Linked DNA regions of Homo sapiens. The protein of the gene in region 2 binds, or shares a complex with, the protein of the main gene of each other region. Each region holds a gene or a part of one and is shown on either strand. Other genes may lie near its edges.

The links.
Region 1: COA1 (region 2) and TMEM126B share a complex: the UniProt entries of both Homo sapiens proteins name them as parts of the mitochondrial complex.

What each region holds. Positions count from the first base shown.
Region 1 is NC_000011.10:85,631,266-85,634,314, forward strand, and holds part of TMEM126B (complex I assembly factor TMEM126B, mitochondrial), read left to right. Parts: exon of another isoform or gene 1-51; intron 52-421; coding exon 422-543; intron 544-2,820; coding exon 2,821-3,014; coding exon of another isoform or gene 3,015-3,040; exon of another isoform or gene 3,041-3,049. UniProt on the Homo sapiens protein: As part of the MCIA complex, involved in the assembly of the mitochondrial complex I. Participates in constructing the membrane arm of complex I.
Region 2 is NC_000007.14:43,638,608-43,642,701, forward strand, and holds the end of COA1 (cytochrome c oxidase assembly factor 1 homolog), read right to left. Parts: intron 2,043-4,094; coding exon 1,966-2,042; intron 1,075-1,965; coding exon 975-1,074; 3' UTR 650-974; downstream 1-649. UniProt on the Homo sapiens protein: Component of the MITRAC (mitochondrial translation regulation assembly intermediate of cytochrome c oxidase complex) complex, that regulates cytochrome c oxidase assembly.

The DNA.
Region 1 (3,049 bases), on a different chromosome or scaffold from region 2:
AGCCTGACTGCCTTCTCGGAATGAGGAGAGAGGAAAACAGCAACAGTATCAGTATGTTAGCCTTCTACACTAAATCTCAAGCAAGCCAACCTTTCAGACCTTCAGTTTGCTCATATGTATAGAAATAATCATTATACTACCAATTTCTCAAGTTAGTGTGTAAATCAGAAAGCCAATGTCTGTATTGTAGGATGTTTAGCAAGAAAATAAAAAATAATAACAAAAAGCCAATGTCTAACAGATAATAAGAGCTCAGTAAATGTTGATTGAATTACTAACAAAGTATGTGAAAGCAGACGACACAGTACCTGGCACACTACTAAACTGTAAATGTTTTCAAATCTGAATCTGTAGAATTCTGTAAGGTTTTATGTAATATGAATATCATTAGCTATTATGGCTCTGGAATTTTTTTTTCCAGGTTTTCAAGATGGCAGCATCTATGCATGGTCAGCCCAGTCCTTCTCTAGAAGATGCAAAACTCAGAAGACCAATGGTCATAGAAATCATAGAAAAAAATTTTGACTATCTTAGAAAAGAAATGTAAGAGAAATGCCCAGGCTGAAAATCAGTCATTTTATTTGCAAGTCTTTTGTATTGCCATTGTTTCTAAGATCCTATTCTTTCTTACCTTTTCTGTTATCTAAGATCCTATTCTTTGAGTTGGCTATGAAGAACACATCTTTAAAAAAAAGAATGGGGGAAACAAGAACAGATGAAAATGGTGGTTTGTTGGAATATTTCGGATTGTGGATAATTTCTTTTGTTTCTTAAAAAGTATCCAAAAGTATTGCTAAAACTTTTGTGCAGTAAATGTATTTTAATTAAAAGTAATTAGGAGAAAACCATTGAGGGGGGTACTTATATTTAATTGGTGAGTAATTATAATCAGTTTAGGATTGATTATCTCAGCCACAGTACTTAGTACAGCAAAAGGGAATACAGATTTCATGGTATAAATATAGTCTCACATTAACATATTGACTTTTTTTTTTGAGATAAGAGTCTCACTCTGTCACCCAGGCTGGAGTGCAGTGGCACAATCTCGGCTCACTGCAATCTCCAGCTCCCAGGTTCAAGTGATTCTCCTGCCTCAGCCTCCCAAGTAGCTGGGATTACAGGCGTGTACCACCACAACCAGCTAATTTTTGTATTTTTAGTAGAGATGGTTTAACCATGTTGGCCAGACTGGCCATTTTGACTTTTAAATGAACAAAGTTCAAGAAAAAAATCAAAGGACAGTTGATGTTATTTCCTGGATTTACATATGGGTCTTAATAAGAAAACTAAATCAGATTTTTTTGGATGAAGTTTTATAAATCTTGGACAAATTATTTTATTTTATTTTATTTTATTTCATTTTCTGTTTTATGGCTTTATTGAAGTATAATTTATATATCTTGACATTCATCCATTTAAAGTGTACAGTTATATGAGTTTTAGCAAATTTATACAGTTATGTAACCATCACCACAATTAAAATTTGGAATACTTCCAACATCCCCAAAAAGTTCCCTCATTCCCTTTTATTTTTTTTTATTTTATTATTATTATACTTTAAGTTTTAGGGTACATGTGCACAATGTGCAGGTTAGTTACATATGTATACATGTGCCATGCTGGTGTGCTGCACCCATTAACTCATCATTTAGCATTAGGTAGATCTCCTAAAGCTATCCCTCCCCTCTCCTCCCACCCCACAACAGTCCCCAGAGTGTGATGTTCCCCTTCCTGTGTCCATGTGTTCTCATTGTTCATTTCCCACCTATGAGTGAGAATATGCGGTGTTTGGTTTTTTGTTCTTGCAATAGTTTACTGAGAATGATGATTTCCAACTTCATCCATGTCCCTACAAAGGACATGAACTCATCATTTTTTATGGCTGCATAGTATTCCATGGTGTATATGTGCCACATTTTCTTAATCCAGTCTATCATTGCTGGACATTTGGGTTGGTTCCAAGTCTTTGCTATTGTGAATAGTGCCACAATAAACATACGTGTGCATGTGTCTTTATAGCAGCATGATTTATAGTCCTTTGGGTATATACCCAGTAATGGGATGGCTGGGTCAAATGGTATTTCTAGTTCTAGATCCCTGAGGAATCGTGACACTGACTTCCACAATGGTTGAACTAGTTTACAGTCCCACCAACAGTGTAAAAGTGTTCCTATTTCTCCACATCCTCTCCAGCACCTGTTGTTTCCTGACTTTTTAATGATTGCCATTCTAATTCATGTGAGATGGTATCTCATTGTGGTTTTGATTTGCATTTCTCTGATGGCCAGTGATGGTGAGCATTTTTTCATGTGTTTTTTGGCTGCATAAATGTCTTCTTTTGAGAAGTGTCTGTTCAGGACAAATTATTTTAAATGTATCTGGGACTAATGAAGAAATAGAAGGCCTAACCAAATGTAAACAGCTTTTTTTTAGATGAACTTAAGCAAAGTAAATCTTTTAGTTGCAGGAAAGGTATTCTTGGATTTGGGTAGCTCATAAAATTTGGCTGCATTGGAACATATTTATATTTATTTGTGGCCAAAATTATTTAAAAGAGCTCTATTTTAGAATTACTGTAAATATTCTTAGAAAGAGAATCATGTCCTCTCATTAGAATACAAGTTCTATGAGGGGTGGGAAATTTCTTTTTTTCTTTTGCTTTGTTTACTGTCCTATCTTAAGCACTTAGAAAATACTTTTCACATATAGTAAGTGCTCAAGAAATATTTGATATTGATATGCAATAACAACTTTTCAGGAGAGGCTGTATCCATTAAGTTCAATGGTATAGTGAACTGAATTTTTCTTTTTTTCTATTAGGACACAAAATATATATCAAATGGCGACATTTGGAACAACAGCTGGTTTCTCTGGAATATTCTCAAACTTCCTGTTCAGACGCTGCTTCAAGGTTAAACATGATGCTTTGAAGACATATGCATCATTGGCTACACTTCCATTTTTGTCTACTGTTGTTACTGACAAGCTTTTTGTAATTGATGCTTTGTATTCAGGTGAATTTAAATTCACTAATGTATAACGTAGTTAT
Region 2 (4,094 bases):
TCTTGTTGCCCAGGCTGGAGTGCAGTGATGAAATCTTGGCTCACTGCAGCCTCTGCCTCCTGGATTCAAGCAATTCTCCCACCTCAGCCTCCCAGGTAGCTGGGATTACAGGCGCCCGCCACCACGCCTGGCTAATTTTTTGTATTTTCAGTAGAGACGAGGTTTCACCATGTTGGCCAGGCTGGTCTCAAACTCCTGACCTCAGGTGATCCGCCTGCCTTGGCCTCCCAAATTGCTGGGATTACAGGCATGGGCCACCACACCCAGCCAGATGCTGTTAGCTTCAAACTAACTTTCCTAAGTTAACTTTATATGTATATGTACACATATAAATTTTCTAAGCTTTCAAAATGTTTGGAATAAAAACAATTATTTTGCAAATCTTCAACTGGGCAGATGGTTGGTGTCTGAAATAGAAATAAATAAAAGCAAAGCAAACAAAATATTCCAAAGTGATAGAGAATGTCCACAAGCTACTTAACAACATGAATTCAAGGTAGAGTGAAAAACCAGTGGTCTTCCTCATCATTCTCAGGTCAATAATTTAGAAAAAATCCCTTCAGTGCTACTAAGCTTCAGGCTTTGTAATGAGGACTGAAAATTCCAGGGGAAAGGAAGAGGAAGAGAAAGGAAAGAAATGAGAACTAGCAAAGATCAACAAACATTTTATTAATTCTGATTCCTTTTATCATGTGCTTTTTTATACAAAGCACTTTCAAATACATTACATTATCTTAAATTTATAATAGGAGTTTCTTTCGGATTCAGTTTAAAAATGACAAATAGCATTTGTTGTGCCCAAGTTAGAATTACACCAAAATTACCATGTGCTGGCACATACCATCATCCCACTGGTGGCTGGAAAACTGGGTTGCAGGAGTGTCTGTCACTGAGATGGGCCACCACCCCAGTGGCCATATGGTAGAGATGAGGGAAGGATGGACTAGAAGCAAGCTGGGTCTTCTGGGTCGTCTCTACTCCTTTTTCACTTCATCACCGTTTTCCCCACTGAGCTTGAACACAGGAATCTGCTGACCATCCTTGAGCTCTAAAAAGACCTCGTCAAGGTGCCACCTGAGAGAAACCAAAAGTATAGTATCTCTAATCTATGAAGGCTGAGGCAACAGCCGTAGTCAAAAAAAGGGGCGCGGAAAGCAGTTGTTTTGAATAATGCCTTAAATTTTTTTAAACATTATTTTGTGCGAGTGCTGTGTCAACACAATTTTTAACATTCTACCATGGGCTCTCATTATTTAACCAGCTTCGACTTCAAGGCAGGCTTAACAATGACTGACAGGCGAATGGAAGGGACATCAGGAAGAAGGAGCAGTTTATTTCTCATTTCCTAATTCACAGTGACCTTCAGTTCCTGGCATGGAATCCAGCCAGCTTGTACACTAATCCCAGGCTCAGAGGTCAGTGAGCCCAGGGTGAGCTAGGTGGGGCCTCCTGCTCCTTTTGTCCTTGGGAATTAAAATACAGCCTGGCTAAACAGCAAACATCTATGAGAGAGGCTTCCCGTGGGGGAAGTGAGTGGATGTAGCTATTGGCAACCAGACAAGCAAAGCCAATTAAGGGGTGGAGAGCTTATGCAAAGAATGTGATGAATAAATTCTGGAACAAGAGTCCATGCCCTTTATTCATTTATAACAATTGAGGCAGTCAAGTGAGAAGCTGTAACATAGCATCAAATTATGATAGACCCAGATCACTATAACTGGAAAGTTTTACAAATTCAACGGCATAAGGAGAGGGCAATTCAGTAGACTGTATGGATAAACTGGACTCAGCTAAGAGCCGCAGTACTGGCTTGCTGCCCAGGCCACGAAGCTTTCAGCTTCAAGCTTGAAAAATAATTCTTCCTATGCCCACAGTAATTTAACAACAAATGAAAACGGAGTTGGGGTTGCTTTCATCAGGAAGTCTTCCTCCCGCTCCCCCACTGCCGTCACCTTCCCAGGATACCTCTGAAAGGGGCCACCTCTGGATGAGTGGACGTAGAGAAGGCCCTCTGATTTGGATCCAGAGACAGGAATCTTCAACTGTGGGTGTAAAATGACAGAAAGGAGAGATGTAATTGGATAATTATTGTCATTTCAGAAGATGACAAAATGATGCTTTCTAGAGCTAAGCCTATAAAATCCAGTGATTCTCCACAGAAGTGAGTTCTTTTCTAACAGCCCAGCTGGAGAATCCACTTGATTTTCCAAATGTCCTGCCCCTCTTTGGTTGGCTGGTAAGGTCAATGGCAGTCTTTCCATTTGGCAAGGAGGACTCCTATGTCAATGCTCTGGGTACTTCCAATGATCGCTCAAAAGTCCACTGTTAAAAAGGAGCAAACTCCTGATACACGGAGCAACATCGATGAATATCAAAAACACACCAAGCCAAAGGGCTTTACACAGGAGGAGTATACAAGTATTTATGTTAAATTCTAGAACAGGCTAAACTGTCCTGGAAACCTGTTGTTATTTTGATGGATTACAAAGTAATTTTCAAACATCATTTTAAAAAAAAGAAAAGTGACTGCCTCTGGTGGAGCTGGAAGATGTGAGAAGGGACCCATTGGGTAGGGCACGAGGGAATTCAGGTGCTGGGAACAATCTACATCTAGATAACGGCTTGAGTGACACAACTGGGTGTATTTGTTAAAACTCATCAGATAGGACGCTTGGATTTGTGCCTTTCACAGAATGTAAATTTTACCTCAAAAAAAAAAAAAAAAACCAGGAACCATAACAAATATTAAACTCTACTTAATGATATATGTGCTTATGTGTATGATGTTTGAAAATTACTTTGTAATCCAACAAAATAACAATACAGATTCATGGAAACAGAGCAAAATCCAATTGTAGAATCCAGGTACCAGCTATAGGTGCTCACAGTATAAATTCTTTTGTCTTTTTTGTACGTTTGAAATTTTTCACAATAAAATACCAAAAAAAATTCACTGTTTTAAAGAGGGACCTATTGCCAGGAAATTGGTACATATTTTGACCTGGACCCTAAAGAACAGGCTTTAAAGAAAATACAATACATGAAGGCTTGTCTGAGAAAGACAACACAGAGTTCTCAGTTTCTCCTTCATCCCCAGCACCACAGGCTGGGCTCGTACCACAGGGATGCTGCCAGGTGCTGCCATGCCCATGCTCAGGGAGTCAGCCTGAGAGCCCGTAAGCAGTTGATCACACTCCGATTGAGAAAAAAAACAGTGAATGCAATATTTTTGGTTTCTCATGAAAACCAAAGAAGGTATGAGCCTCGCGAAGGAGACACAGGCACAGTTAATAAGGAAGCCCATCATGAGACAGGCATCTCCCAGAGTGCCTTCCTGTGTCCTCGGTGATGGCCAAAGATACCTCCCGGGGCAGGGGCAGGGGAGGGAATTGGGGCGGGGAGTATCCCACCCATTCCAAGTTGCCACCAAGAGAAGAAACTACTGAGGTACACATTTGTGCTTTCCAAACACACCTGAAGGAAGGCACAAGATTTGGAACATGGCTCCATAACTCAGGTGAATAGGCAGTCACCTAGTCACACTTCAAGAACAAATCTTTGGCCGGGTATGGTGGCTTCCGCCTGTAATCCCAGCACTTTGGGAGGCTGAGGCAGGTGGATCACTTGAGGCCAGGAGTTCGAGATCAGCTGGGCAATATGGCAAAACCCCATCTCTACTAGAAATACAAACACTTAGCCGGGCATGGTGGCGCACACCTATAGTCCCAGCTACTCAGGAGAGTGAGGCAGGAGAATCGCTTGAACCTGGGAGGTGGAGGCTGCAGTGTGCCAAGATCACACCACTGTACTCCAGCCTGGGTAACAGAGCAAGGTTCCATCTCAAGAAAAAATTTTAAAAAAGAACAAATTTTCAGGGTCCCACTGTTTGAGTCAAGCTACAGCTTTTCTCTGGAAATTATAGAATTAAGCAACAGAGTATACACTGAGCATCTCTGGATGCTTTAAAAAAAAATTTAAAAAGGAAGGAGAAAGAAATGGGCAGAAGCAAGAAGGATTCTGAAGAAGAGCAAACTCTGAGGGGCCAATGTCTGAACTGTGGGCAGCTGTGCTTCCATGGGTAGATGTGACACTTT